7 linked regions of the Homo sapiens genome follow. The protein of the gene in region 1 purifies or fractionates together with the protein of each later gene. This does not show direct contact. Each region holds a gene or a part of one and is shown on either strand. Other genes may lie near its edges. The genes, in order: IQGAP3, CCDC85C, NCKIPSD, RAB3GAP1, PJA2, AP3B1 and THUMPD3.

Region 1 (3,500 bases):
ACATCAGCCAGAAGCAGACACCTGTGCTCACCAGTAATGAGAACTCTGGAGGCCTACAGGATGAGGGATACAGCTTTAGCCTTGGGAAGCCTCGGGCTACAGAGTCATGGGGCCCCACCCCTCTCCCCACTTCACACACTGAAACAAGCACCAACACTAGGGCTATGGGGGGCACTGAGAGACCGTCTGGGAATGCTCCCCTGGAAGGCCTGCACTCAGAAGAGTGGTCTGCTAGAATGCCTGGAGGCAGGAGAAGGTAGTAGGCAGGTGGGGGGCCAGGGGCAGGTTGGGCCCGCTGGAGTGAAGACTGAACCAGGGTCTTCCCAAAGAAAAGGTGGGGATGGCCAGTAGAGGTATGTCCCAAAACAGAACAGACAGGTAAATGCCCCCAAACATCCTGTGCCGTCAGAAAGATCCATTGTTGGGAAGTCACAGCTAGTGTCTGTCCGGAATCCTTTATGCCATGGCCTGGGTTTGGTTCTCCTTTGGGCCACTCTTCCCCTGTGGTGATCTATGAGGCCCTCCCATGTGTGACACCATGCATTATGGTGTTATACCTTGATATTCTTCATAAGCGATGCCCTGCCCCAGCCATATCCTGCAGAGGCTGGGCTCTGGGGCACTTTCTTAATGATATGCAGAAAAATGCTCAGGCCTCCCTTTGTTGCTGGTGCCCATGGGACCTTCACTGGTGTGGGAGCAGAATGGTAGGACCTGGTAGACCCCTCCAGCGTCTGTGTGTCCCCAGGAAGCAGCCCACAAGCAGCTGATGAGCCGACGCCAGGCCTGTACAGCCCAGACACCGGAGCCACTGCGACGACACCGCTCACTGACAGCTCACTCCCTCCTGCCACTGGCAGAGAAGCAGCGGCGCGTCCTGCGGAACCTACGCCGACTTGAAGCCCTGGGGTTGGTCAGCGCCAGAAATGGCTACCAGGGGCTAGTGGACGAGCTGGCCAAGGTAACAACCTGGGCCTGGGCTCCGTGTGCCTGTGTGTACGTGTGTGTGTGTGCGTGCATATACATGTTAATCCATAGTGTTGGTGGGCCCCTCCTGATGAGTCCTCACCCAAAATTGTCACCAGCCAGAGGAAGGCTGAGGGTCCTTTTTGAAGGAAAGATTTTTTTTTCTTTTTTTTTTTTTTTTTTGAGACAGTCTCACTCTCATCCAGGCTGGAGAGCAGTGGTGTGATCCTGGCTCACTGCAACCTTCACCTCCTGGGTTCAAGTGATTCTCCTGCCTCAGCCTCCCAAGTAGCTGGGATTACAGGTGCGCGCTGCCATGCCCGGCTAATTTTTGTATTTTTAGTAGAGACACGGTTTCAGGCCATGTTGGCCTGGCTGGTTTCGAACTCCTGACCTCAGGGTCCGCCCATCTTGGCCTCCCAAAATGCTGGGATTACAGGTGTGAGCCACTGCACCCAGCCAAATTTTTGTATTTTTAGTAGAGACAGGGTTTCACCATGTTGGCCAGGCTGGTCTCAAACTCCTGACCTCAAGTAATCTGCCCACCTTAGGCTCTCACAAAGTGCTGGGATTACAGGTGTGAATCACCACTCCTAGCCTGAAGGAAAGATCTTGAAATTAGTTAGAGAGGAAGGTGTTCTTGCAACTCTCTTTTTTTTTTTCTTCCCCACATTAGCTGGGTAATGTGCCCAGGTCAGAAGGTTTGAGAGAAGCATATCTCACACAAGAGCATGAAAACCCAATCCTCAGCTTATGACCTACAAAAGTATCCTTGCAACTTTCTTTTACTAAAAAACAAACAGCCTTGAAACCAGTTAGTCCTCAACGGGCAGAGGCCCTGAGGACATGCCTTGAGGATTTGGAATACCATCCTTGAGATTTTCCTTCTAGGAAAACAGCCTTGAAGCCTGTTCTTCCGAAGAGCCTCACAGTGTGTAGCTCTTGGGCCTGTGTCAGGCCCTAAGGCTCTCCTGCCAGGAAGGACCACTCATCCCTCCATCTGTTCCCCAACCCCAGGACATCCGCAACCAGCACAGACACAGGCACAGGCGGAAGGCAGAGCTGGTGAAGCTGCAGGCCACATTACAGGGCCTGAGCACTAAGACCACCTTCTATGAGGAGCAGGGTGACTACTACAGCCAGTACATCCGGGCCTGCCTGGACCACCTGGCCCCCGACTCCAAGTAGGTGCTGCTTTCCCGTACTTGGAAGGTTACGAGTGACTTCTCACCCCTGCCCATGTCACCTTTGCCCTGCTATCTCCCAGCTTTGAAAGGGGAATCTCACCCAGCACAGCACAGTCCCTTCCTAAGTCTGGTCTTTGAGCCTCATTTACAAAGTCTTGGGCTCAAGTGCAGCCCCCCTCCTCTGTCTTCCATCAGTGAGAAGTCTTCCTCGGGGTCTCATTTCCTTTCCAGCCACAGAAAACAAGTTTCTTTGGTGGTAAAGTGTTTATTGGATGAATTCTCTGGGGCCTTCTTTTAATCAGGAGTTCTGGGAAGGGGAAGAAGCAGCCTTCTCTTCATTACACTGCTGCTCAGCTCCTGGAAAAGGGTGTCTTGGTGGAAATTGAAGATCTTCCCGCCTCTCAGTATGTGTCTTTGGAGGGCAGGATGTCAGCCCCTTCCTGTCCTCTAACCTGGGGGTGGAGCTCTGGGCTGGGCACCGGGTGGAAGAGAAGAAGCATGGTCCCGATCTTGAAGGAGCTGCTAGAATGATGGTGGAGACAGAGCATGCCCAGACAGAAAGTGAAGGGCTGTGGACATGGTCTAGCACAGTTCTAGATGCCCTGAGGCAGAGGGTACTGGGAAAGCTTTCCAGAGGTGAGAACAGCTGCGTAGGGCGGGGCAGATAAAGAGATGGTGTGGGGAGCAGAAGTAAAATGGAGAAGACAGCGAGCTGGGCCCTCTGGGAGTGACAGAGGGAAAACTGGTTCTGGATGACACCGCTGCCCAGGATGAGGAGCAGTGGGTGCAAGAATGTGGCTGTAGCCCTGGAAAGAGGCAGTGGGTTCCTGTTTTGAATCCTGTTCCTGACAGCTTCAGAAACGTCATCTTTGACATCACGCCGGGAGATGAGGCAGGAAAGTTTGAAGTAAATGCCAAGTTCCTGGGTGTGGACATGGAGCGATTTCAGCTTCACTATCAGGTGAGGGGACAGTCCCATGAGCCTGCAGGACATCTGCTGGGCTTTAGGTGCTGGCCTGAAGAGAGCAGCTGGCCTCACTTTCCTAGTCCTCAGATGACACCAGCTCAGTTTTTCACCCAATCAGTATCGTCTGTTCCTGAAGAGAAGGGTGGGGGTCTGTGCAGCCCAAGCCCCCCTTTCCCCATGCCCTGACACAGACCCCACTGGCAAGCATCAGGGAGAGTGGAGTGGGCTACTGGTGTCAGAAGCAGGATTAATATTTGAAGCCCTATCACATGTCAGGGACTTTACATGTTACCTCCTTTAATCCTCTCCACAGCTCTGAAGTATTATCCCTATTTTACAGGCTCTAGGCTAAAAGGTTAAGAAGCTGGCTAAGTCATAGG
Region 2 (4,483 bases), on another chromosome or scaffold:
GTTAAGATTTAAGGCCAATTTAGATCTGAAAAGAAACAATGTTGGCTAAGAATTTAAAGTTTTGCATATAAACACATAAAACTAAAAAAACATCAGAACAGGAAATTACCTGCTGCTTTGTTCTCTTCTTTGGGAGAAACAACCTGTTACAAAAGAAAATACACAATTGTTAACTGGGATCCTGAGTATGATGAGAAAAAAATGGATTATCCAGGTACCACCAGAATCAGCGACGGCAGTCACTGTGAACAGCCTCGGACAAAAATTATTTCTAGCCTGAACTTTCAGGGCAAACCACGGCACCTACCAGATCATCATTTCTGCTCCCTTCCTCTTTCCATTTACCAAATAAGACAGAATGACTAGCTTTCCTGAATGGTGAGTTCTGAGTAAACACTAAGTTTCAGGACCACTTGGGTGCAGGAAACGGTCCACTGTTTGGGGTCAGGCAGCTGCACAGAAGCAGCATGCACAACGACACTGCTAGGACACGGCAACGACACCGACAGGCTTCAGAACCCTGGCAGGGATGAAACAGGCAGCAGGGCTGGAGCCGGGCAGAGAGCCCCCTCCTGGTTCTCAGAGGCAGCCTGTCCTTGGAGCACCTTTGTTTTCAGGCTCCCCACCGACAAGCAGTCGGACTGCGAGTTTCGGCGAACACCCCCTGCTTCCGGTGTTCCCTGTGCTCGCTTAGAAATGGGAACAGTGCTCAGGTGTTGCCGCCACCTGGAAAGCCTGCTCTACCCAGGGCCTGCTTTAGCCCACTCACCACGGCTCGCTTAACCTGTCGGGGAGAACTGGGCTGCGGAGAGGGTTTCTTGGGCTGTTGGGCTGGCTGCTGCTGCTGGGCTGGTTGCTGGGGGTCCTTCTGCTGGGGCTGGGATGGTTCGGAGCTTTGAGACGGCTGTGACTGCTGTACTTGCGGCACTTGTGGTGTAGGCTGAAGAGATGGGGGCTGTTGCAGCTGATGGGGGGTGTGATGAGGCATCTGTTGTTTTCCTTGTGAGTAAAGATCCAGGATTTGGTGGCAGATGTCTAAATGATAGCCAACAATTACATTTTACACAAATTGGTATTTTAAATAAAATTTTACCTGGATAAAGAATCAGTTATGATACCCCTACGAGGACCTAAGCATGAATCACATTTACAACTCACCCCATCTTCGTTGTGTGCAACACTGGTGTGTATTTTTAGTTTACCAAAAGTATGTGTTTGGACAAAGTGGAAACTATTAGATAATTTAATTAATGATGCTTCTGAAATATTGCTCACATATGTCTATCTGGGAAAATCCATTCTTGGGACTCAGGGTACACATGGAAGAATCATCTCAACATGGAACACCCTCACGAGAACGCTTAGCATGCCTGGTACCTTCCAAAACGTCGACCGGGACATCTTGAACAAACTGCTCCCACCATCTCCTATACATGGGTTTGGAGGTCCATTCTTGTATTTCAAATTTGCACAAACGTCCTGCGAGATACATCACTGCTACTGCTATGATCTCTGGTTCCCACTGCAGTGACAAGGTGGTGCAGAGACTAGTTCAACAAGAAAAAAAAAGGTTAGATAATATGATCTAATATTTATGATTAAACCAGTGCATGGAGATGCCATAACTAACCATTAATTTGCTTATTCTCCCCTAAATTTAATTAAAGTACTATAAATAAATAAACTCAAGTCTTTACTCTTCTAAAGGTACCCGACTAAGTTACTTTAACCATAGTTAGTAATTTCTCTATTCCTTAAAGAATCAGAAGAATTCTAGCACATCCAAAAATTGCTACACCAATGAAAATGACTTATGTTATTTAAACTGTTGAAATCCTAGCCACTCAACTGTTTCTTCAAATGAAATCTTATGGAGGAAGTCAAATGTAAGAGAAGCTTCACTGACTGCAGTGGGATGGGGCTGGCAGCAACTCCATTCACAGGCATTCTGTTTCCCACCACGGCCCCTCATTAGATCCCTGGCCTCTCAAAAGAGTGTTAAGGCTCTAAAACTATACCAGGAAGTATATTTTTGCAAAACCAAATGGGCTCTAAGTAATTAGTTTTCAAAATTCTCCAGTGTATTGTTTTGGACTTATGTTTCAGACTGGTGATAAAATTTCAGCACCTCACAACACCATGACACGGCAGGGCAGAAGGAAACCCTCTGCCGGGAAGCAGATGACCTGGACGTCAGCCCCAGCTTTGCCATTAACTGGCTCCTCAAGCCAGGGCAAGTCAGTTTCTTCTGACACAAAATGAGGGGTTTAGATGAAATGGTCCATAAAGTCTCTGCCTATTTTAAAATACTGTAATTAATCAACATTTGAACATGTATACCTGTCATTTACAAATGTCCATGCCATTTGAACCAACTTTTGAATTTTGTTTTTATCACCTAGAAATGGGGACAAAAAGGTAAATTAATAGCAATAGAAAAATTCACAGGCAGCATCAAGTATTTATTAAAAACCTACCACGTGTTCAGCACCACTCAAATACACAGCAAAGAGCTTTTGCGTGGGAAACAAGGATGAATGATGTGGGTCCACATCCTACCCCTTCTTCCTCCTCATGACCTACGCTGAACCACCATGTATGGAAAACCTGGCTCCAAGGCTAAGTTTATTAGTCCATTTAAAAAATTCTGCCTCATTTTCCTGCCTCTCCCATCACTTGGCAACTGGATGACAGAGCCTGTTTATACATAAAAGGAAACAGCATTAGCAGCTGCAATGCTGAATTGACTGAGCAAGCCATGCCCTTGGTATTTCACACATCAAACTTTGTTTTCCGCTTTTGAGAAGCGTAATTTGAGTGTCATCAAATTATAAAGACTTGATTTCAGAATGAAAAAATTCTTCTGAAAACTTTCTTCTTACCTTTGAGTTGCTTTGCATATTTTAGTAGGAACTGGTATGGATGTTCTACCTGTAAATCAAACTTGATGGTCTGCAGTAAGATTCTCTCCAGAACCATTACTTCCTCCTAAAAATCAATCACAAATGTTAGGACAGTAATTACAATTGCAGGTCTCAAGCAGCATTACAAAAGTGAGCTTTCCTGTCTATTTATTCTCTCTTCAAGTTATATTTTAGCAACTGCCTTTCCTTCCTTTCTCTCCCACTCAGACTTTTAACATGCTCAGAGACACTGATAAATTCTGAAAAGATCTCAAACAGGAAGACAAAGCAGAGGTGTAATGTAAAAAAAAATACTGAAAACAAAAGATCCTTAAAAATATTATTATTTTCAATACATACATGAGTCTCCCTTTACAAAACAGATCTTTACGTTATTGATAATTTGACTAAATTGTAATTTCTTTCAAGACCTCAAATTTTAAAAATGCAATCTTTTAGGAATTTTCATTGAAAACATTTTAAGCAAGAAAGAGTTTATGATAGCCAGCCTCATGAAAACTCAGAGATAAATTGTACCAGTGTGTGTGTATGTGTGTGTATATATACTCATGTACACATATAGTGTATTACGTGCAAATGGGGGCAAATCAATTTTGTGTTTAAATCTTTCATTTATTTGAAATAAATCATCCCAACAACACTTACTGAATAAATGATCATTTCCAATTTTATTTAAAATGCTACCTAAATCACCTCCTAAACTACGTGTGTATGTCTGCCTACACACACACTATCTTTTCTGTTCACTGATCTGCCTGTCTACTCCTGGACCAGGATCAAAGGGATTTGGGTGGGATACAATAGCTCCAGTATTACTTCTCTTTTTCAAACAGTTTCTGGGTTCTGCATGTCCCCCTCACTCAAATTTTAGTAACCATTTTACTTAGTATCATTACAGAAAACATACATGCTATTAATATTCTCATTGGAAACTCAGAGGATTTATAGAATAATTAGGGAGAATGGAGATTTTTAACCATATTGAAGTTTCCTTCCAAAAATTTATTAATATCTTTTCAGTCCTTTAGTTGTTTTAAAGTCCTTTCCACCCCACTAACGAGGTTTCCACAAGGTTTAACCTTGGATATTTTACTGTTGCTATCGTTAATGGAATGTCCTCTTTGATGATACTCTCTAACTAATGTCTTGAACTCAGCCCCTGTACAGCCGACTGTACCTACTGCTTAAAGACAACATAAACCACAACCAAGACACTGTGTGCGGGGAGGACAATTTGAGAGAATTCCTTGTTTGGCATCAAAGACAGGGCGTTGTAGAGGACTGTAAATCTCATCAACAGGTGCAGAGACCCACAGGTCACTGGCTTTCATTTAGAAGCATGGTATTATTTTATAGGATACAGAGATGATTCTATAATTATTATTCCAAATTACATGGCAAGACTAAGGTTTTTCAATCTTAGTTTCCCAAGCATTTTCTCATGAAAGTTTTTTAAAATCTTAGAAACTTTCACACAGTGTAAAAAAAACTGGGCTGGACATGGTGGCTCATGCCTGTAATCCCAGCACTTTGGGAGGCCGAGGCGGGCAGATCACTTG
Region 3 (4,465 bases), on another chromosome or scaffold:
CCCCTACACATATGTGCTCAGCCCTCTCTTGTGCGGCTGCACAGCTCCGCTCATGGTGGCTGATGCTCTCACTTCCTCATTTCTGTAGACTGATGCAGACCCTGAAGTTTGCAAGAAAATGTGCAAGAGAAACGAGTTCGAGTCTGTCCTGGCCTTGGTGGCCTATTACCAAATGGTATGTGCAGGATGGAGGGGAGGGGTAATGGAGAGACCTAGATAGTGGGGGAGTTCCAGGCACTGAGCACGCAGGGTTCCCTGCCAGGAACACCGAGCATCACTGCGGCTGCTGCTCCTCAAGTGCTTTGGCGCCATGTGCAGCCTGGATGCAGCCATCATCTCCACGCTTGTGTCATCCGTGCTGCCTGTAGAGCTGGCGAGGGACATGCAGACAGACACGCAGGGTGAGGCTGGAGGGCGGGGTAGGAGGGAACTTCCTGCTATCTGGAGGGTGTTCCTGCCATCTGCTGGGGTTTCCTGCCATCTTTGGGGACTCTGACTGCCTGCCTTGTCCCCCCCAGACCACCAGAAACTCTGTTACTCTGCCCTCATCCTGGCCATGGTCTTCTCCATGGGAGAGGCAGTGCCCTATGCACACTATGGTAAGAATGCAGTAACCGACCAGCTGATCACAGGTCCTAAGCCAGGGCCCATTGCCCGAGGGCCTGGGACCTGCTGACTACACAGCCTAGCAGGGAGAGGCTATCCCCAAGGCTCACAGAAAGCCAGGAAGGGTGGGTGGTGCGGGGGTCGGAGGGGAATGGGGCTGCAGACTTCTGTGCGCCCCTCTCCCAGAGCACCTGGGCACGCCTTTCGCCCAGTTCCTACTGAACATCGTCGAGGATGGGCTGCCCTTGGACACCACAGAGCAGCTGCCGGACCTCTGCGTGAACCTGCTTCTGGCTCTCAACCTGCACCTGCCAGGTGGGGTGGGGCCTGGCTGGGCGGTGGCTGAGCACATGGTGGCTCTCAGGCTCAGCACCCTGTCTATACCCATGTCCTTCCTTAGCTGCTGACCAGAATGTCATCATGGCTGCCCTGAGCAAACACGCCAATGTCAAGATCTTCTCCGAGAAGCTGTTGTTGCTCCTGAACAGAGGGGGTGAGGGCCCGGGAATCTGCGCGGGTACCACTTCCATGCCCTGTGACTCCATGACCCCTGCAATGACTCCCGTAACCCCCTGGGGTGACTCTGGGATCCCCACAAGGTCCACCCTGACCGCTATGACCCCTGCCTCCTAGATGACCCTGTGCGCATCTTCAAACATGAGCCACAGCCACCACACTCTGTCCTCAAGTTCCTGCAGGACGTGTTTGGCAGCCCGGCCACAGCTGCCATCTTCTACCACACAGACATGATGGCTCTCATTGACATCACTGTGCGGCACATCGCAGACCTGTCACCAGGAGACAAGGTGCCTGGAGGTGGCTGCAGCAGCGGGGGTCACTGTGTGGAAACTGAAACAAAATGGTGGGGGGCATGACATTGAGTGGAGATGAGGGGGCAAGGCCACTGCTGGAGCCAGGTAAGTGTAGGAGGCCATGATAGGTGCACCAAGACCCAAAGGAGCCAGCCATGAGGTGATCTGGAGGTGGTGGGGCTGGAGGAGGCTGGAGAGGAGGGAGTGGAGGGAGATGAGGCATGGAGGATGGAGTTTACACAAAGCCTCGGAGGCTGCTGCAAGAGGTTGTGATCTCAGGACCGGGGAATGTGATGTGATTAACATCCCACATGGAATCAACTGCATGCCAGCAGAGTGGAAGCCAGCCAGGGAGGAAGCAGCCTCAGTGGTCCAGGTGGCATGGATGGGGTGGGGATGGGATAGGTCGTGGCAGTGGCAGTGGCGAGAAGAGGCCAGCTGTGGAGTGTTTAGTAAGTGGATCTGGCAGGGCTTGCCACTTGATTTATCTTGAGCAGCTAGATGGATGAAGTGCTGATTTTTGAAGTTGGGGAGGCTGGGAGAACTTCTTGGGGGAAAATAGAGAGTCGTGTTTTGAATGTGTCAAGAATGAGGAGATATCTGCTAGACACCCAGGTACCGAGGGCATCAGGGAGGCAGTGGGGAATGAGTTGAGACTAGAGAGACATTTCGGAGTGGTCTATGCAGAGATACGATGGGAAGCCTGTGACAATGTGATTGCCTCAGAAATGAGATAGATAGGCAGGTCAGCGGGAAGTTCGGGCTGCAGCCCTGGGCACAGCTGAAACAACTAGGGAGAAACCCAGGAAGAGAACCAAGAAAGCAGGAGCCCAAAGCCACATGTTTAGAGGAAGACGATCAGCCATCTCTATACCGTTAGGAGCCTGAGCGAGACTGGGGTTGGCCATTGGATTCACCACACAGAGGTCAGTGGTGCCTGACAAGCAGTGTCAGTGGGGTGCAAGGAGGAGAGTCTGAATGAAAGTTTGAGAGAGCTTGAAGTTATTGGGGAGTAGAAATGAGGGGAGGGTTGGAAGCAGTAAATGGAGACAACTCTTGTGAATTTTCTATTAAGGGGAAGAGAAAAATGGAAGGGAGGTTGCTGGAGAGAGATGACATGGGGATAGGGAGAGTGTTTTTTTGGGGGTTTTTTGTTGTTGTTGTTTGTTTGTTTGTTTGTCTCCCACTGTTGCCAAGGCTGGAGTGTAGTGGCACGATCGTGGCTCACTGTAACCTCCGCCTCCTGGTTTCAAGTGATTCTCCTGCCTCAGCCTCCCAAGTTGCTGGGATTACAGTCACCCACTACCACACCCAGCTAATTTTTATATTTTAGCAGAGACAGGGTTTCGCCATGTTGGCCAGGCTGGTCTTGAACTCCTGACCTCATGCAATCCACCTGCCTCAGCCTCCCAAAGTGTTGGGATTACAGGTGTGAGCCACCGTGCCTGGCCAGGGAGAGTGTTTTGAAGATGGGGGATGTTGGCCAGGCGCGGTGGCTCATGCTTGTAATCCCAGCACTTTGGGAGGCTGAGGTGGGTGGATCACTTGAGGTCAGGAATTCGAGACCAGCCTGGTCAAAGTGGTCTCTACTAAAAATACAAAATACGAAAAATACAAAAATTAGCTGGGTATGGTGGTGGGAGCCTGTAATCCCACCTACTTGGGAGGCTGAGGCAGGAGAATTGCTTGAACCCGGGAGGTGGAGGTTGCTGTGAGCCAAGATCACACCACTGCACTCCAGCTTGGGTGACAGATGGGGGATGTTGGCCAGGTGCAGTGGCTCACGCCTATAATCCCAGCACTTTGGGAGGCCGAAGTGGGAGGATCACTTGAGTCCATGAGTTCAAGATCAGCCTGGGCAACATAGTGAGACCTCTGTATAACCTGATGGACCACAGTAGAAAATAAAATTAGCTGGGCATGGTGGTATGCACCTGTAATTCCAACTACTTTGGAGGCTGAAGTGGGAAGATTACTTGAGCCCAGGAGGTCAAGGCTGCATTGAGCCATGATTGTGTCATTGCACTCCAGCCTGGGCAACAAAGCCAGACCTTGTCTCTTTAAAAAACAAAAACAAAAATGGTACGGATGATGGTGCATGTTCTGAGCCGGAGGGAATGATCCAGCAAGCACAGAGAGATGGATGATGTGTTGGAGATGGTGAGCCACCACAGGAGTCAAGTGGATGGGGCAGGAGGGGAGAGTTCAGGTCCAGGCCCACATGGACAGGAGCTAGGGCTGCTCATTCTGGTAGGGACAGGTGAGATGTGGGTACTGAGGGGAAAGACGGGTTTCTGCAAGATTACTTCTGTATTCTCTATGAAGCACAAGGCCAGCTGACAAGGTAGGTAGGTTTCAAAGACAGAGAAGGTGGACATTATTACTACTCTAAGGGAGAGTGACACAGCAGAGAAAAGCAGTGGGAGGCTCAGGCAGTGCTGTGTGTCCGTTTGAGGTTTGCGGTGGTGAATGACATTCAGGCCTGCACATGGCTCTGCATTTGTCTATAGCTTAGACGCTGGTGTTTGATGTGCAGGCACCTCAGTATGACTCCCAGGGCTGGGACTTAGCAGGGTGTGCTGCCTAAAGGAGGTTTTGGTATTATTTCTCTAATTAAAGGTAAAAAGAGAAATGAGGGATGTTGAGGGAAGCAGACATCAGGTCAGTGGACTGGGGGTCTCTGTGAGAACAAGCTGTCAAGTCATAAGGGCTGGCCGGGCGTGGTGGTTCACGCCTGTAATCCCAGCACTTTGGGAGGCCGAGGTGGGTGGATCACTTGAAGTCTGGAGTTTGAAACCAGCCTGGCCAACATGGCGAAACCCCGTCTCTTCTTAAAAAAAATACAAAAATTAGCCAGGCATTTTGGCACATGCCTGTAATCCCAGCTATTTGGGAGGCTGAGGCAGGAGAATCACTTGAATCCAGGAGTCAGAGGTTGCAGTGAGCCAAGATCATGCCACTGCACTCCAGCCTGGGTGACAGCACGAGACCCTGTCTCAAAAAAAAAAATGATATATATATATATATATCATATATATATATATATA
Region 4 (4,465 bases), on another chromosome or scaffold:
GTGGCAAATGATATATGTAAGACATTTGTGAAATGTTTAATAAAGTTATATATATGTGTGTGTGTATATATATATATATAAAATGTCATTCTTTGTGAGTGATTCTTTGTGAGTGAAGTTTGCTTCTCTTTTGCCTTCTCCCTTGGAATGTTAAAACATGTTTTTAAAAGTTTTTTATTTGGTCAGAGAAACATTGCAGTGACCATCTTCTTTGGTAGCATATTTTGCTTACTAATGAGGAAAATTCTAGTACTTACCATTGACTTACTGTAGTTAACAACTATTTCACTCAGTTTTTGTATTTTATAATATCACTAATAACATCCCCCTTCCCTTTTAAGCTTTTTAACTTATGGATGTTTTAAGGATTTTATTTAAGAATGAAAAAATTACTCTTTGAAATTGAGGTAGAAATCAAATTCTAATCTAAAGTATTGGTAGTTTTATTCATAAACCACACCCCAAATGTTTACTGAAGAATGTACTCTGAGAACAAACCTGGATTCACTGTGAAGGGATCTAACAATTTGATTTTAAGTTTATGTAGATGCTTAGTTTGTTAGATAAATTCTTTTGAAATAAAATTTATGGTTGGTTTTATTACAACTCAATATTACTAACTCAGTGATAACTTATTAACTCAGTAATTATTAATTCAATAGTAATTTAATTATAATTTACCCTGTGTTAGGAACTTTGAGTTCTCAATATTTGCTAGGGGTTTTCAGCTTTGTGATGGTGATACTATCAAAAAAGAGACTGTCAAAATGCATTAGGAAGCCAGGCAACATGGTGAGACCCTGTCTCTTAAGGAAAAAAAATCTCCTTATTTGTATCAATATGAACAGAAAAAGTAAGACCACATATAAAAAATACATCATTCAAAGACTCTTGGCAATATATACATTGATTTACTACACTACATGTGTGAATAAAGAAAATGTGACGCTTTCAAACACGGGTCATTCTACTCCACTTGAAACAAATACATAACAATTGATATAGATGCCAATAAGATTAGAGGCAAAATAAGCTGGATATAGCTAGAATAGGAAATGATTTACACTACTAAGAAGAGAGCTAAACCGGGTACTTATGAGCTCTGATATTCTTTCATTCTTTGATTTACATGTATTTACTGAGTACCTGCTATGTGCCTGATGTGAAGAAATTGTGAACAAGATAAGATCAGTGTTGCCATTGAACATAAATTCTAGTGAGGGTGATCAGTAAAGAAACATTAAAATTTTATTTTATTATTATTTTTTAAATTGATATATGATAGATGTACATATTTTGGGGTACATGTGATAATTTGATACATGCATATAATCAAATCAGGGTACTTGGGAACCCTTAAATATTTATCTTTATGCTAAGAACATGCAAGTTACTCTCTTTTAGCTATTTTGAAATGTACAGTCAATTAGTGTTAACTAAAGTCACTCTAAGGGTTAAAGTTTTAGATGCTAAATTCAGTTTTGGGATTTAAGTGGGTAGTTATTTAAAGTAGGTAGCATACTGCCAGGCATGTAGTAGAGGCTAATGAAGTCATAGCTCCAGTCTGTTTCTCCCTACTAGATAGTAGTACATAAATAAGATACAGAAAATATGGGCAGATTTCAAGGTGAGCTGTAACTATGATGAATATGAAGAAAGTGTAGAGGACAGGGATTGTTTGGTGTAGAAAACAAAGTTTAGAGACTTCCTTTGAAGATTTTAACTTATATGAAGGACAGTGATTATTAATTTTCTCCTCCACTGAGGGGGAATTAAGGGAAATTATTTATTAAAAACCTTTAATTATGGAAAATTTCAAACATATATGAAGTAAACAGAATAGTATAATGAACTCCCATGTACCCATCACTTAATGTCAACAATTAATACTTTGCCATTTCTTGTTTGAGTGGTACCTCTGTTTACTCCCCTACCTCCACTAGATTTTTTTAATAGTTTTTTTTTGGGTAAGATTTATATACATTGTAATGGACAAAACTTAACTGCTTGATTTTTTTTTTTTTTTTTTTTTGAGACCGAGTCTCGCTCTGTTGCCCAGGCTGAAGTGCAGTGACATGATCTCAGCTCACCGCAACCTCCACCTCCCGGGTTCAAGAGATTCTCCTGCCTCAGCCTCCCAAGTGGCTGCGACTACAGGCACCCGCCACCACACCTGGCTAATTTTTTGTATTTTTTAGTAGAGACGGGGTTTCACTGTGTTAGCCAGGATGGTCTCGATCTCCTGACCTTGTGATCTGCCCGCCTCGGCCTCCCAAAGTGCTGGGATTACAGGTGTGAGCCACCGCGCCTGGCCAACTGCTTGATTTTGACAAATGTTCACATGGGTATAACTTACACTCCTGTCAAGATAGAGGTCATCTCTGTTACCCCAGGAAGATCCTTAGTGACCCTTTCTAGTTAATTCCCATGCCCTCCAGTCATCTGCTATTATTATTATTGTTATTATTATTATTATTTGAGACAGAGTCTTGCTCTGTTGCCCAGGCTGGAGTGCATTGGTGTGATCTTGGCTCATTGCAACCTCTGCCTCCCGGGTTCAAGCAAGTCATATGCCTTAGCCTCCCAAGAAGCTGAGACGACAGGCATATGCCACCTTGCCTGGCTATTTTTGTGTTTCTAGTATTTTGTATTTTCACCACGTTGGCCAGGCTGGTCTCCAATTCCTGGCCTAAAGCAATCTGCTTGCCTGGGCCTCCCAAAGTGCTGGGATTACAAGTGTGAACCACTGGGCCCAGCCTTTTTTTTTTTTTTTTTTTAAATAAACATAAATTACTGTCACCTGCTTTAGAACTTTACATTTAGGTGACCATAAATGTCCTTGACATCCTTTACTCACGATAATGTTTTTGAGATTCATCTAGGTTGTTGTACATACCAGAATTTCATTTCTCTTTATTGCTGTGTAGTAAGTGATCTGTTTTATGAATATACATGGTTTCTTTCACTTGTCCACATACGTACTATTAGGAATAAAGCAGAACATTATTGTATGAGGCCTTTTGTGGGCATATGTTTTTATTTCTCTTGAGTAAATACCTAGGATTGGAATCACTGGGTAATAGGATAGGTGCAACTTTATAAGAAACAGCTAGAGCTTTTTGTACTGTTTTACCTGCCCACCATCAATACATGGGAGGTTGTGTTGCTATACATTCTCACCAACAATCAGTTGTTTGCAGTCATGTATATTTTAGTCATCTTAATGGGTATGTAGTTTGTGCTTTTAATTTATATTTCTCATTTTGGTTTTAGTCTGTATTTCTGTGATGATATTAATATTGACCACTTTGAATTTTCATGCATTTATTAGCCATTTGTTTATCTTCCTTTGTGAAATGTCTTTTCAAGTTCTTTATCCATTTTAAAAATTGGATTTTGTTTTTATTGAGTTGTAGGAGTTCTTTTAGTTTTTTTTTGGTATATATATATTCTGCTTTTAAGTCTTTTCTCAGTAGTTTTGCTAGGTTGTGAAGATGTTTTTAATGCATTTTTCTAGAGGGTTTACCAATTTATCATTTAACCTTTGTTAAGGTCTATGATTTATTTTGAGCTACTATATGGAGGGAAGTAGGGATCAAGTTTCTTCTTCCTTTTTTTTGTGTATGGATATCCTGTTGTTCTAGAACCTACTTTGGAAAACACTTTTTCCATTGAGTTGCTTTGTCACCTTTATTGAGTAGTTGACCTAAGTGGTCTACTTCTGGAGTCTGTATTCTGTTTCATTAGTCTATTTGACTATCCTTATGTCAATACCATATTGTCTTTTTCTTTTTTTTTTGAGACAGAGTCTCACTCTGTCACCCAGGCTGGAGTGCTTGATCTTGGCTCACTGCAGCCTCCTGCCACCATGTTGGCCAGGCTGGTCTTGAACTCTTGACCTCAGCTGATCCGCCCGCCTCGGCTTCCCAAAGTGCTGGGATTACGGGCATGAGGCACTGCGCCCGTCGTATATTGTCTTGATTACTGTAGTTTCAGGTTTCCTAACCTTGGCACTATTGACATTTTGGGCCACATTGTTGTGAGGCTGTCTTATGCATTGTCAAATATTTAATAGTATCTTTGGTTTCTACCTGCCAGATGCCAGTAACATGTTTCCAGTTGTGACAACCAAAATTGTATCCAGATATTGCCAAATGCCCGCTGAGGGGCAAAATTGGCCCCAGCTGAGAACCATTGAATGGATTTTTAGTAAATCCTGATGTTAATGTAAATTCTCCATTTTTGTTGTTTTCCCAAGATTTTAGATCTTTTGTGTTTCAATTATGAATTTTAGAATAGGCTTGCTAATTACTATAAAAAGGAGTATGATTATGCTGAGACTGTAATTGGGGTTGGGTTGAATTTGTAGATCACTTTGGAGACATTTTAACAGTTTTGAAAGTTCTAGTCATGAACATGGCACATCTCTCCATTTATTTAGGTCATCTTTAATTTTCCTCAGCAA
Region 5 (4,465 bases), on another chromosome or scaffold:
CCTCTACCCTAATTCCCTGCAAAGGATTATAGTTGCCAGGGTGCCTTTTTAATATGGTGCCAGCTAAAGGTTGGAATTTAATAGCTGTACACTCCTATTTAGTTTCATTTTGCCCTTGTTCATCTCCCTGATGTTTCATTGTCATCCTCCCTAGTTCTTGTATTTGTAGATTGGAGAGATGGTGATGCTAGTCTTCTCAGGTTTTGGATGGAAAGTATAAGAGCTGCTGCTTAATTTGGGCCTGTGAACTTTGAGTTTTTTTGTAAAGCTTAAAAAGTTGATATACTTGAAAAGTTTTTTTTTGTCATGCTTATAATAGCCAAAGTAGAACTCATCAAGAATATAACTAAAGTTCATTGTGGCATTTTTATTTTTTTATTTTTTATTTATTTATTTCGAGACAGAGTTTCTCTCTGTTGCCCAGGCTGGAGTGCAGTGGCGTGATCTCGGCTCGCTGCAACCTCTGCCTCCTAGGTTCAAGTGATTCTTCTGCCTCAGCCTTCTGAATAACTGGGACCACAGGCATGCCATCATGCCCAGCTAATTTTTGTATTTTTAGTAGAGATGGGGTTTCACCATGTTGGTCATGCTGGTCTTGAACCTGTGACCTCAAGTGATCCACCCGCCTCAGCCTCCCAGAGTGTCAAGATTACAGGCGTGAGCCACTGCACCCGGCCAGCATTTTTAGATATAGGAATTTTGGCTACTTTTTAAAAATATGAATTATATATTCTTTTTAAGTAGAAAAGTATTTTAATGAATTCATGATTGCCTTCTTCCCTGAAAAATTCTAAATGATCATTTAATCACATCTGAAATGTTACACTCTGTGGGATAAACATTGCAGCCAGTAGCATTGCTCTGAGCTGTTTGACAGGTACTGAGCACCACCTTATTAAATTAGGATTCCAAGGGGAATTTTAATAGGCAGCATATAATTACCAGACTTAGAATTAGACCAAAGAGCTAAGGTTAATACCCTGCTCTTTTGAAATATACCCTGAGAAGTTTAGTAACTGTTTGAGGACAAGATCTTGAGTTTAAAAAAAACCTTTCAGCAATACTAGCATATCTTAACCTTGGGCCTAACTGCTCTGAAGAGAGGCATGCCATCTACTGTCTGTTCCTTACTTATAGCATTTGAGGTTTCTTGCAGAATTTTTGTGGCCTTAGGACTTAACTTTGCTTAAAATTTAAAAACCTTACTTAAGGTAAAATGTTGGGACAACTTACTTTGTTGATGATGTTGGGAAATAAAATGATTGTTAGCCATTTAGTTGACTTCAATATGATATATTAAAGGATTTGTTGAAATCTTAAGTGCCAGACTTTGTTCCAGGTGCCCTGTTAATACAAATCATAATGGTCCCTGTTCCCACAAGGTTCACTAGCTTTATGAAGAAGACAAAATATACGTATTTATTATTGTGAGGCTGAATTAAGCGCCTTTCCTGTTCCGTGTAGGTTACCTGAGAGCCACAAAGAAAGAGTTTGTCTGAGAACTTGGTACTACCCCCAACAAATAAAACATCTATATGCAGCCAAGGCACAGATCTTAAAGCATATGTGCTGACATTTTAGCAAACCTTTTTATCTTGTTTTCAAGTTCATAGAAGTTTGGAAGGAGCACATTAGGTATAAATGTGTTTGTTCTGCAGATATGCTAGGGAGTTCATGGGATTACAATAACCTGATACTAAGGAAAAAGACCAGAAAGTGACAAAAAGCAGGCACAATGCAAAAATCATAGCCATCTTAATGAAATTAAGCAGACTTATATATTTGGACATAATCCATTCATATCACTGTATTACATTACAGTTCAGTGTTAATAGTGGTAAAAAGTTCCAGAATGTTTAGATTATGTCAGATAACAAAATATTTAAAATTTCACTTTTTCCTAGGCTCCTGTAGTTGAGTTTCTTGTGGCTGTGATAAATGCCAGGAAGAACAAAGTAACAAGTACCTTGGGGAATTATGGAATGAGAGATTACTTTTGGTTGGTTTTATGTTTCCATAGCTTATTTCTGCCTAGGATTTGTACATAAATTTTGTCTATAATTTCATTCTGTATATCAAGTTTTTTTAGTTCACAATTGAATGTGTAGAGTGTAACATTTGAGTAAATTATAGTTGTCTGCTTTTTAAATACAACTCTTAGGTGCTAAAAGGGATCAGTACCAGTGAAGGATCATATGAAGATCAAAGTAGTACTTAATTTAGTTTTTACTTTGAGAACTTTTAAATGTGTCATTCACCCGCTTTTAAAATCTAGAACAAATGGATCTTCACTGTTCCATGATCATTTTTGTGTCCTATTTGTTCTGTTGCTTACTCCTTAAAAAGTGATTTTTAAATCTTTTCCCTTTTTTCCTTCCATGTACTCCTGTCACTCCTAATGGTTAGCTTCGTTTCTTATTTTCCTGTAGAAGTTAAAAATATGTAAATGTGAATTTTCTTATTTTCCTCTTCTCCATATTAGGGGATAGTAGTATTTATTTGTATTTTTAATTTCCTCTTCAATGAAGAGAGGTAGCCCCTCTCATTCTGTGCCTCTAGTTATTTCTGACACTTCATCTAATTGTCCTTACTCACAGGTTGCTTCCCTCTGTCTCTCAACCTTGAGTTTTTCTCAATCTTGAAGAAAACCTTTACTTTTTCTTGCTCTGTTATTTGCCTGTTTGTGTTTTCTTTTCTACTGCTGAATTTTAAGAAAAAGTTTTCCATACCCACTGTCTCTATTCTGTCACTATCCACTCTTCTTACTGCCTTGAAATCTAATTCCTAATATTATTTCTGTATTCTTTTTTATTGAGACAGTCTCGCTTTGTCACCTAGGCTGGAGTGCAGCGGTGCAATCTCAGCTCACTGCAACCTCCACCTCCTGGGTTCAAGCAATTCTCCTGCCTCAGCCTCCTGAGTAGCTGGGACTACAGGTGTGCACCACCATGCCTGGCTAATTTTTTTTTCTTTCTTTCTTTTTTTTTTTTTTTTTTTTTGAGACGGAGTGTTGCTCTAGTTGCCAAGGCTGGAGTGCAATGGTACCATCTTGGCTCACCACAACCTCCACCTCCCAGGTTCAAGCGATTCTCCTGCCTCAGCCTCCTGAGTAGCTGGGATTACAGGCATGCGCCACCACACCCAGCTAATTTTGTATTTTTAGTAGAGACCAGTTTTCTCCATGTTGCTTAGGCTGGTCTCGAGCTCCCGACCTCAGGTGATTCACCTGCCTCAACCTCCCAAAGTGCTGGGATTACAGGCATGAGCCACTGCACCCGGCCCTATATTCTTTAATGTCAGTGGTGACCTCCTGATTTCCACATCCATTTGTCTTTTCTCAGTACCCATTTTCTTTGATTTCTCTGCACTATTATGAAAAATAATTGCAATGTTAAAGAAGCAGCTGTGTTGTAGTGAGCTGCACTGAGTAAACAAGAAGTCTAGTTCATGAAATAATTGAAAAACAAAAGAAGCGATTTTATACAGGAAGGTCTTGAAAGAAATAGAGTCTGATCTGTGTTTGGAAGTGGGGAAAAGGTGAAGTGATTATAAAGATATTCCTGATGGCAAGAATGCCCACTTTGAGGACACTGTTTGAAATAGAGCATTCTTGAGTTGGATGCAAGAAAGTACTGGGATCAGATAGCAGTAAATTATAAGTGTTATTCAAAGACATTTAACTTTTTATTCTATAGGTCACTATTTCCAAAGTGGGTAAAATATATTAAGTGGTACACAATGTTTTTAATTTAATCATTATGTATTTATGTTAATGGAAATTAAGAAAATATAGGTAGCACATCAAATTCAGGACTTAATGGCTATTGCTTATCCTAACTAAATGTATTTGAGTTTAAAAAAATGTTAAAAAAAGACTCGCTAACAGTTATTGATGGCTCATTATTTATCAGGCATTGTGAAAATGTTTTATATATATTAACTCACTTACCCTTTACATGAACCCAGTGAACTATTAAATACTGTTGTTGTATTCACCTGATATGTGAGGCTAAAAAGGCATAGAGAGGTTTTCATAGCTAATAAGTGGTGGGTTTAACTCCAGGCAAGCTGACCAGGACCTGTATTCTCAACTATCGTACCTTAAGACAGAGGGTTAATGTGCAACTGCAGCAAAAATTGTGAGAGTGATAGGCAAATGGCTTGTTTGTGAAACTAAAGCAGTAGCATTAGAAAAAAGAGCTGTTGAAGGTTTTTTGGAGTAATACTATAAACATACTGTTTGATATGTAAATTGAAGTGATGGTAGTATTCAGAATGCATTTTGAGGGAGTGGAATTAAATTTAGGAACACCAATTAATAATTGACTATATAGGTCTAATTTGGAGAAAAGCATTTGAACTAGGGTTTTACATTTTAGGAGAAACGGAGAAAAAGGAGCTAAGACTACAAGAGCCATTGTGCAGAGAAAGAATGGAAAGTAAGAAAGGATTTGAATGTGGGGAG
Region 6 (4,465 bases), on another chromosome or scaffold:
CTGAGGTGGGAGGATGGCATGAGGCCAGGAGGTTGAGGCTGCAGTGAGCCGTGATTGTGCTATTGCACTGCACCCTGTGCGACAAAGCAAGACTGTGTCTCAGAAAAAAAATCGAAAACCAAAAAAAACTGTTTCCAGAACACACATCCAATCTTCTTGAATTTTTATTACGTTAAATTGGTATTCATAGTCACACATTATTCTTACTGGACTGAAAATATCATGTAATGCGTGTTGAAATGTGAGTATTACCATAAAAATCAGAGTTAGGGCTCTGGACTCTTTTAACAGATGAGGAAACAAGTTCCCATAACATATAGTTAGTGGCCTGGGCCCAAATTCTTTCTCTTATTATTTTTTAAAGAGGTAGGGTCTCTCTGTGTTGCCCAGGATAGCCTCTAACTCCTGGGCTCAAGTGATCCTCCTGCCTCAGCCTCCTGTGTAGCTGGGACTACAAGCATGTACGCCATGCCTGGCTTCTTTCTTTTATTTTTATCCCTCATTTTGAAAATATTTTTACAATTTAGTTAATATTCTTATATGAGATCTGCTCAGGGATTTTTTATTCCCTTCAAGAGGAAGGGACACTTTGATAGGCTATTGCTATTGTGAACTGGACTATTAAAATGCTTACTTTAAAAGCTTTTCCTGTTGTACTTATTATCCCACAAAATATTATTTTTATTTTACAATCTAACATGTGACCAGATTCAGTTATTTACTTGAGAAGAATTGAGCATGGATTTTGGTATAGCAAATACTGAGTTTTAAATTTTCACTCTGGTTATGAATAAATGATTTTTTTTTAACAGATCAAGAAGTTGGTATATGTTTACCTGGTTCGATATGCTGAAGAACAGCAGGATCTTGCACTCCTGTCCATAAGCACTTTTCAGCGAGCTCTGAAGGTAAATAATGGAGTGAGTAGGCAAATAGCTACAAGGTTTCTGCAGAGTTGAAAGTGTGTCAGTTAAAGAAGTGGAGCGATAATCCACTAAATAGCACAGTAGTGTCTTGAAAGAGTTAAAAGCCTCCTATAGTGCCTACTCAGTACACTTAGAAAATAATTTATACAACCAACTGAAACCTTGCTGTATATGTTACAGCTTCTGTATGTTTGTTTATATTCAATATAATTATTTTCATGCTTCAAAGAGCTGTTTATCATTATACTAGTTGTTGAAAGTACGCAAAAGGGGTTATAAGACATTTTTAAACATGAAATTGATGACCTGCAGCATTTTATTATTATGAAAGTATAAAAACCCAGCATATTTAGTAATAAATGACCAACTAGAATTATAACTATTACTTTTCTTTAAAACATTATTAAAGAAGTAAACATTTATGTCTGTCTTTTTTTCCCATTCCTATATACTAATTGTTCATTTTAAATTAAGTAGCTTTCTTTTGCTATTGTCATATTACACCCTTTAAGCACCTATTAACTGTGTCTGAAAGATATGTTTAAAATATTGTAAAGTTGAAATTTTGGTGAATATTTTTGCACTATTTTTAGGACCCAAACCAACTAATTCGTGCAAGCGCTTTGAGAGTTCTGTCAAGTATTAGAGTGCCAATTATTGTACCTATCATGATGCTTGCTATTAAGGAAGCTTCTGCTGACTTATCACCATATGTTAGGAAGAATGCAGCCCATGCAATACAAAAATTATACAGGTAGGTGCATTGTTAACAATATACCAAAGATCTCTGATGTTACATGGAATGTTATAGACCACAGAGGCTTGTTTTATTCGCTCTTTTAGGTAGGCTGCTCTTACACTAAGTAAATCCAGTGACTGTATGATGGTATTTCCCCCTGCTGCAAATGTTCCTTACACATCTTTAATTTCGTTTTGGCTATAGAGACCCTATGCAGGTTTTTATTTGTGAGGCTGTTAGAGCCTGTGATAATTTATAGATTTTATAACTTAAGAATAATCAGAATTTGAATTCTCATTTATATAGTCTATCTCATGTACACATATGCTTGTATTATTAGAAAATTGAGATTTTTTTTTCCTGTTTAGGGTAGAATCTTAAGTGTCTGATCCTCTCAACTCACTTATATGTGTTTTCCTTTCTTCCATCTTTGTTCCTGCTGCTCCCTTCGTTGTCTAATTCTTTTCCAGAGCTATTTTATTAAGTAATTTTAAAAAGTGTAGTGATTTGAAATATAGTGTGCTATACCATATCTGTGTGATATTTTAGAAATGTTATGCAATATTATACAATGCCCTGATCTCTGTGGAAAATTTACTGTCCAAATAGAATTGTCTACAACAATTTGGTATTATTTTCAGCTATCATTTATTCCTCAAGCTTTTTGAGACTCTCTTCTGTTTCTGGTGTTGTATTCACAGTATTGTGCTATGTGTATTTAGATGTATGAAAACAGTAGAGGATGTGGCACTTAATTATGAATAGCATATCATGTATTTGAGGAAGAAGATCAAAGACATACCAAATAATTAAAGGCAATCTATAATGAATAAGATATTAGCACTTGATATATATGTATATACAAAGGTACACTAGCAATGTCTTTGATAGGACAGGGACCAGAGATGATCATATTTTGTTACCGGAAAGTAAAGATGTAATGAGATGGGATTGGTAGTGAAATACTGCTTTGAGAAGGAAGACTTAAGCTGAAATTTGAAAGAATTAAAAAGTTTGTCCAGATAATTATAATGTTTAGTAATAAATGTGTATGTTTGTAGAAAGTGAAACCTCATATTCCTATGTTAACTGCCAGACAAGGTTTTATCATGCTTCTCACTCACCTTTTCTCCTTAGAAACTTATGGGATAAGATCCATGCTCACTCTAACGGCTTAAAAGTCCTTCTATCATTGGGCACCAGTATATTCCAGCCTCAATGCTTGCCTCTCCTTGCCTTGAGCTTATAGTCTGTTAGTATTCTATCTCAAATGTTTTAAGCTTATTACTACCTCTTATTTTTCCTAGTTTTAGTTGGCAGATTTTATAATGCATGTCTCTATCAGTGAACTAGTATGATATAAAATTCTTATTTGGAAATTCTCCATATTTGTTTTTGGGAAGTATGTATGCATAGTAAAATAATGACTGCTATCTAGTTATTTTTTTCCTCCCAGTTGAAAAGAGTTTGTGGTTTATCTACTTACAGTCGCTTTCTTGAAGTTTTCCAACTCTTTTAGAAGTGAACTTGTTCTTTCAGTACTATCTTAACTAAACCATTGATATCTGGTTTAGTTAATATGAACAATATTAGAGGGAAAGATGAGGACACATTCATGAGAAAAACCATCCCATTTTATTTGTTTTTCTTTATTTCTAACTTATAATTCTTGCTCTCCTTTCCCTCTTTAAAAATTTCTCAACATCCTTGAATTGGTGAGCATCATGTAAAGCTAGAATTAAAGGGAAAAATTAATATGTTATTTTTGTATTTTTTAGCCTTGATCCAGAGCAGAAGGAAATGTTAATTGAAGTAATTGAAAAACTTCTGAAAGATAAAAGCACAGTAAGTAATGTCTTTTTACGTCTTTGACATAAAAATGTACTTTATTTACATAGTATCATTTACCATTATATATTTTATATAGTTGTATTTATTGATTTCAAAATGGTATAAATATTAATGGCACACAGGACTATTTTTAAAGAACAAAAATTTTCATGTAATGAGAAAGACTGCATTTGGAGTTTTAGATCGTTATGTGTTTCTTCATCAGAATCTGAAAAAAGGCAAGTTGAGAAAAAAATCTTTAACCTGTGGCTAAGTGGTTAACATGGTAAGATCAAGGAATAGAGGTGACCTATGGGGGATGTGAGTTACTAGTGTACTAGTATCTTAGATGGGGCTTTTGTACCCACTTTATATTTCTCAAAACTACTGAGGAAAAGGATTCCAGCTCATCTTAGGATGCTATCATCAGGGAGTATGTACTATCTATGCATGGCAGCTATCTAATACAGTAGGCAGTAGCCCTGTGTAGCTGTAACTATTGGTTTATGGCTTAGCATTTGATCTATCCTGGATAATGTTCAATAAACATTTGATTAGAATGTGTATTCTGCTGTTGTTGAGTGGAGTGTTCTATAGATATCTGTTTTTTAGTGTTGTTCAAATCTTCTACTTTGCTGATCTTATGCCTACTTGTTCTATTCATTATTGAAAACAGGGTATTGAAGTCTCTTTAATTCTGTTAGTGTTTGCTTCATCTATTTAGGAGATTGGATGTTTGGTGCATGTATGTTTATAATTTTTTTAATCTTCCTTTTGTCATTGTAAAATGTTCCTCTTTATCTCTAGTAACATTTTTTTGTTTTAATGTCTGTTTTGCCTGTTATAAATACTACTATTCTAGCTTTTTTATGGTTGCTGTTTCCATTATATATCTTTTTCCATCCTTTTACTTTCAGCCTGTTTATATTTTTGCATCTATTGTATGTCTCCATAGACAGCATATAGTTGG
Region 7 (4,465 bases), on another chromosome or scaffold:
GATTTTCATTGCTCTGCCCCAAATCAGGTGATTTTAAAGTTACTGCATTTTCTATTGAGTACTGATTTGTAATTTTGACTGTAGTTTCAGTATCCCTTAGGACCAAAAGTGTTTCAGATTTTTGGAGGGGGGTGGGGGGAGTTTTGGAATATTTGCATTATACTTGCCAGTTGAGCATTTCTTTTTTTTTTCTTTTTCTTTGAGACAGAGTCTTGCTCTGTCATCAGGCTGGAGTGCAATGGCGCGATCTTGGCTCACTGCAACCTCCGCCTCCCAGGTTCAAGCAATTCTCCTGCCTCAGCCTCCCCAGTAGCTGGGACTACAGGCGCCCGCCACCGCATCTGGCTAATTTTTGTATATTTAGTAGAAACGGGGTTTCACCATCCTGGCCAGGCTGGTCTCGAACTCCTAACCCCGTGATCCACCCGCCTCGACCTCCCAAAGTGCTGGGATTACAGGCCTGAGCCACTGCGCTCGGCCTGCCAGTTGAGCATTTCTAATCTGAAAATCCGAAATGCTGCACTGAGCATTTCCTTTCAGCATTGTGTTGGGGCTCAAAAAGTTTCAGATTTTTAGATGTGGGCTGCTCAACCTGTAGTAGGATTGCTACATTTTTAGAGGTGATCTAGTATTTCTTGAGGATTGAATTCACCAGAAAGAATACTGTTCAACTTAAGAAATTCTCTAAGTATCTCAGTATTTATTTACTTCAGCATATAGCAGATGTTTAACCTTTGGTGATGAAACATAAAAGAGATTTTCCTTTTAATTTGCATCAAAAATTCTTGCTCAGAAGTAATTAGGACTCACTCAAGGTAAAAAGTGAAGGTCAGAAAACTGCAATCTCACTATCATAAAGCTGATATATCTCATTACCACATAAGCAGTGAGAGGGCAAGGATTGTTGTCTATTTTTTTTTCCACCAATATATCCCACGCTCTTAGTGTCTGGCATATAGTAGGTACCCAGAAAATATCTGTGGGATGAATTGGTAAGCAAATGTTTTCCATCCAATATTTTAGCCAATACCCTCAGCAGCTTTGTGAAGATAGGCACTATTATTATCCTCATTAATCATTAGGCTTAGGACACATAAATAATTTCCCCAGGGCCACTCAGCTAGTAATCACAGAACTGGAGCTCAAATCCCCTGCTTTTAACCATTGCAGCATACAGTGTACCCTAGAAAGTCATCGAGGAAATATGATACAGCCCACCTGAGTGGCTTCACCTTTCTCTTCTCCCACAAAAGACGTGTTGCCCACAAAACACTTCATGCTTCTCTCTTTCCATCTGCCCTTTTTCCCTTTCTCTAGGGGAAAGCTGATTAGTAACCAAAGAGATGAGAAACTAGGGAGATGGGACATTTTAAAAATACAAAATATAGTTAGTAGCTGCTTTAAAACTATCATTCCTAATTTTTTAAATACTTAATTGTTGATAGCTTGTGCTGTTCAAAAGCTTTCTCAGAAATGTGTTTCTTTTTTTTTCACCCAGGTTCATTGTCTGAGATCAGTTGATAACTTATTTGTGGTGGTTCAGGAGTTTCAAGATTACCAGTTCAAACAAACAAAGGTGAGCTATCCTAAACATGGTGGCTGATTTTTGGCTGTCTTCCACAAAGAGATTATTTCCATTTTTCATAGTCTGTGAAAGTTTAGCATTACTGTAGTCTTTGTAATAGAGAATACTGGGAGGCTTTTACAGTAAAATCTAGAGTTTTGCTGACAGTCTATCCCAAAAGATGTTTTTTGAAAATTAGTATTGAAAACCATTAAAGTTTATAAGAAAGAAGAAAACACCTTGTTTTACTTGTAAGAGATATAAACCTTAGATTTGCTTTGCTTTTACATATATTTAGTTCCAAAAGAGAATTGCTTCCAGAACATGAACCAAAGAACAAGTGACAGTTTGTGTCTTCTACAAATAACACTTCCTCACCATCCTGCTTTTGCTCTGCTTTCTTCTCTTTCTTCATTTTTTGAAATAAAGCCAAAATAACATCTAAATACTCCTTCAGTTGTTAGGACAACAGCTTTGTCTCCAATATGTATTTAGCATCTGAATCCTAAATATTCAGCTGCTGCCTAAGCTGAAGGTTGAAAATAGATTGCAGCAAGGCTTTAGGTTTTTTCCACACTGCTTTTTGGTTAGGTTTCTAGAGTTAACCGCTTAAAAACATTTTTCTATCAGTTTTACGTATCTTAGAAATAATCTTTTTAAAAACAACTGTGATACGCTACCTAATTGTCTAACTTTTATTTATTGGCAAGCATGTTGATTTCCAAAACGTTATTCAAAAACGAGTCAAAGTTGTATGAACCCTCAGCCTAGAAAACAATAAGACCAGACCTAAAAGAAGTCAGACTTAAGGGCCTGGCGTGGTGGCTCACACCTGTAATCCCAGCACTTTGGGAGGCCGAGGCGGGTGGATCATGAGGTCAGGAGATCGAGACCATCCTGGCTAACACGGTGAAACCCCGTCTCTACTAAAAATATAAAAAATTAGCCGGGCGTAGTGGTGGGCGCCTGTAGTCCCAGCTACTCAGGAGGCTGAGGCAGGAGAATGGCGTGAACCCGGGAGGCGGAGCTGGCAGTGAGCAGAGATCACACCACTGCACTCCAGCCTGGGCGACAGAGCGAGACTCCATCTCAAAAAAAAAAGTCAGACTGAAAATAGATAAAAATTGTATTAAGTAAAAATCTAACTTTTAGAAAAGCTTAAAGCAATTCTAATGAGTTCTCTTAAGTATTCAGATGATAATCATGAATTTATTAGTCCCCACCCCCCTCTTTTAAAAAATATTGAGATGGGGTCTCACTATGTTGCCCAGGCTGGTCTCAAACTTCTGGGCTCAAGTGATCCTCCCACTTAAGCCTCCCAAAGTGCTGGGATTACAGGTGTAAGCCATTGCACCTGGCCCCCATTCCCCACCTCCACCCGCGCATATTTTTTTTTTTTTTTTTTTTGAGACAGAGTCTTGCTCTGTTGCCTAGGCTGGAGTGCAGTGGCACAATCTCAGCCTACTGCAACCTCTGCCACCTGGGTTCAAGCGATTCTCCTGCCTCAGCCTCCCGAGTAGCTGGGACTATAGGCATATGCCACCATGCCCGGCTAATTTTTGTATTTTTAGTAGAGACGGGGTTTCAGCATCTTGGCCAGGCTGGTCTTGAACTCCTGACCTCGTGATCCACCTGTCTTGGCCTCTCAAAGTGCTGGGGTTACAGGCGTAAGCCACCGCGCCTGGCCTCCATCTGCCTTTTTAAAAGTATGAACAAATCTGTGATTTATATGGGTTTTTAAAGACTAGTTAATACATGTATTTGGAGCAAACTTGTAAAGACTGAATGGATATAGAGTGAAAAGTAAGTCTTTGTTCCTATATCCTCATGCTATGCAGCTCCCTCCCTGGAGGCAACAACTGTTAGCAATTTCTTGGGTATTATTCTGGAGATATTTTACGAATAAATGTATTTTATTTACACAAATGAAAGCATAGCATACATACTTTTCTGCGCTATGCTTTTTTTTCATATACAAGTTGAGTATCCCTTATCTGAAATACTCGGGACCAGAAATGTTTTGGATTTTTGTTTGTTTGTTTTTTGAAATATTCTGGGTTGGGCATGGTGGCTCACACCTGTAATCCCAGCACTTTGGGAAGCCAAAGCAGGTGAATCATGAGGTCAGGAGTTTGAGAGCAGCATGGCCAAGGTGGTGAAACACCATCTCTACTAAAAATACAAAAATTAGCCGGGTGCGGTGGCGGGCTTCTGTAATTCCAGCTACTCGGGAGGCTGAGGCAGGAGAATCACTTGAACCCGGGAGGCAGAAGTTGCAGTGAGCCGAGATCACGCCACTGCACTCTAGTCTGGGCAACAGAGCAAGACTCCGTCTCAAAAAAAAAAAAAAAAAAAAAAAAGAAAGAAATACTCTGAGGGTGGAACCTATGTATAAATAAATCCAAGATTCATTTGTTTCATATATACGTTATACGTATAGCTTGACGGTAATTTTATATGATTTTTAAAATAATTTATACATGAAACAAAGTTTGTGTACACTGAACCATCAGAAAGCAAAGGTGTCACTATCTCAGCTACCTGTGTGGCATCATGTTGGCACTTCAAAAAAATTTTAGGTTTTGGATTTTGGACTTTGAGATTAGGAATGTTCAACCTATATGTTGGAGATCCTGGCAGTATCATTGCTGGAATTGGCTGCGTATACTCCATTGTTTGGCTGTATAATAATTTAACCAGTCCCATTTTAGGGCATGAGGGTTTTTCACATTCTTTTGCTATTACAGTGGTGCAACAAATACACTATGTAAATTCTTGTACATATTCAAACTGAGTGTCATCTTTGTGTTTATCCCATTGATACTTATTGATAATGACAACTGTTTAGTCTTAGTTTTGTCATGCTCATACTTTTTGTTTTTTCTTAATTTGAAAAATCTT

Evidence for each region.
Region 2: the proteins of IQGAP3 (region 1) and CCDC85C purify together in Homo sapiens (co-immunoprecipitation; one large-scale study listed by IntAct). This does not show direct contact.
Region 3: the proteins of IQGAP3 (region 1) and NCKIPSD purify together in Homo sapiens (co-immunoprecipitation; one large-scale study listed by IntAct). This does not show direct contact.
Region 4: the proteins of IQGAP3 (region 1) and RAB3GAP1 purify together in Homo sapiens (co-immunoprecipitation; one large-scale study listed by IntAct). This does not show direct contact.
Region 5: the proteins of IQGAP3 (region 1) and PJA2 purify together in Homo sapiens (co-immunoprecipitation; one large-scale study listed by IntAct). This does not show direct contact.
Region 6: the proteins of IQGAP3 (region 1) and AP3B1 purify together in Homo sapiens (co-immunoprecipitation; one large-scale study listed by IntAct). This does not show direct contact.
Region 7: the proteins of IQGAP3 (region 1) and THUMPD3 purify together in Homo sapiens (co-immunoprecipitation; one large-scale study listed by IntAct). This does not show direct contact.

Annotation. Positions count from the first base shown.
Region 1 is NC_000001.11:156,527,566-156,531,065, reverse strand, and holds part of IQGAP3 (ras GTPase-activating-like protein IQGAP3), read left to right. Parts: intron 1-748; coding exon 749-961; intron 962-1,636; exon of another isoform or gene 1,637-1,736; intron 1,737-1,983; coding exon 1,984-2,150; intron 2,151-2,455; coding exon 2,456-2,557; intron 2,558-3,005; coding exon 3,006-3,114; intron 3,115-3,500.
Region 2 is NC_000014.9:99,499,271-99,503,753, reverse strand, and holds the end of CCDC85C (coiled-coil domain-containing protein 85C), read left to right. Parts: 3' UTR 1-109; coding exon of another isoform or gene 110-143; 3' UTR 144-769; coding exon of another isoform or gene 770-1,035; 3' UTR 1,036-1,377; coding exon of another isoform or gene 1,378-1,547; 3' UTR 1,548-2,340; coding exon of another isoform or gene 2,341-2,398; 3' UTR 2,399-2,882; coding exon of another isoform or gene 2,883-2,988; 3' UTR 2,989-3,564; downstream 3,565-4,483. Other genes in the region: CCNK (cyclin-K), read right to left, coding at 110-143, 770-1,035, 1,378-1,547, 2,341-2,398, 2,883-2,988. UniProt on the Homo sapiens protein: May play a role in cell-cell adhesion and epithelium development through its interaction with proteins of the beta-catenin family. May play an important role in cortical development, especially in the maintenance of radial glia.
Region 3 is NC_000003.12:48,675,511-48,679,975, reverse strand, and holds part of NCKIPSD (NCK-interacting protein with SH3 domain), read left to right. Parts: intron 1-88; coding exon 89-175; intron 176-262; coding exon 263-401; intron 402-518; coding exon 519-599; intron 600-792; coding exon 793-921; intron 922-1,006; coding exon 1,007-1,099; intron 1,100-1,239; coding exon 1,240-1,412; intron 1,413-4,465. UniProt on the Homo sapiens protein: Has an important role in stress fiber formation induced by active diaphanous protein homolog 1 (DRF1). Induces microspike formation, in vivo. In vitro, stimulates N-WASP-induced ARP2/3 complex activation in the absence of CDC42.
Region 4 is NC_000002.12:135,058,246-135,062,710, forward strand, and holds part of RAB3GAP1 (rab3 GTPase-activating protein catalytic subunit), read left to right. Parts: intron 1-4,465. UniProt on the Homo sapiens protein: Catalytic subunit of the Rab3 GTPase-activating (Rab3GAP) complex composed of RAB3GAP1 and RAB3GAP2, which has GTPase-activating protein (GAP) activity towards various Rab3 subfamily members (RAB3A, RAB3B, RAB3C and RAB3D), RAB5A and RAB43, and guanine nucleotide exchange factor (GEF) activity towards RAB18.
Region 5 is NC_000005.10:109,371,440-109,375,904, reverse strand, and holds part of PJA2 (E3 ubiquitin-protein ligase Praja-2), read left to right. Parts: intron 1-4,465.
Region 6 is NC_000005.10:78,224,587-78,229,051, reverse strand, and holds part of AP3B1 (AP-3 complex subunit beta-1), read left to right. Parts: intron 1-812; coding exon 813-908; intron 909-1,519; coding exon 1,520-1,680; intron 1,681-3,443; coding exon 3,444-3,510; intron 3,511-4,465. UniProt on the Homo sapiens protein: Subunit of non-clathrin- and clathrin-associated adaptor protein complex 3 (AP-3) that plays a role in protein sorting in the late-Golgi/trans-Golgi network (TGN) and/or endosomes.
Region 7 is NC_000003.12:9,365,410-9,369,874, forward strand, and holds part of THUMPD3 (tRNA (guanine(6)-N(2))-methyltransferase THUMP3), read left to right. Parts: intron 1-1,498; coding exon 1,499-1,576; intron 1,577-4,465. UniProt on the Homo sapiens protein: Catalytic subunit of the THUMPD3-TRM112 methyltransferase complex, that specifically mediates the S-adenosyl-L-methionine-dependent N(2)-methylation of guanosine nucleotide at position 6 (m2G6) in tRNAs.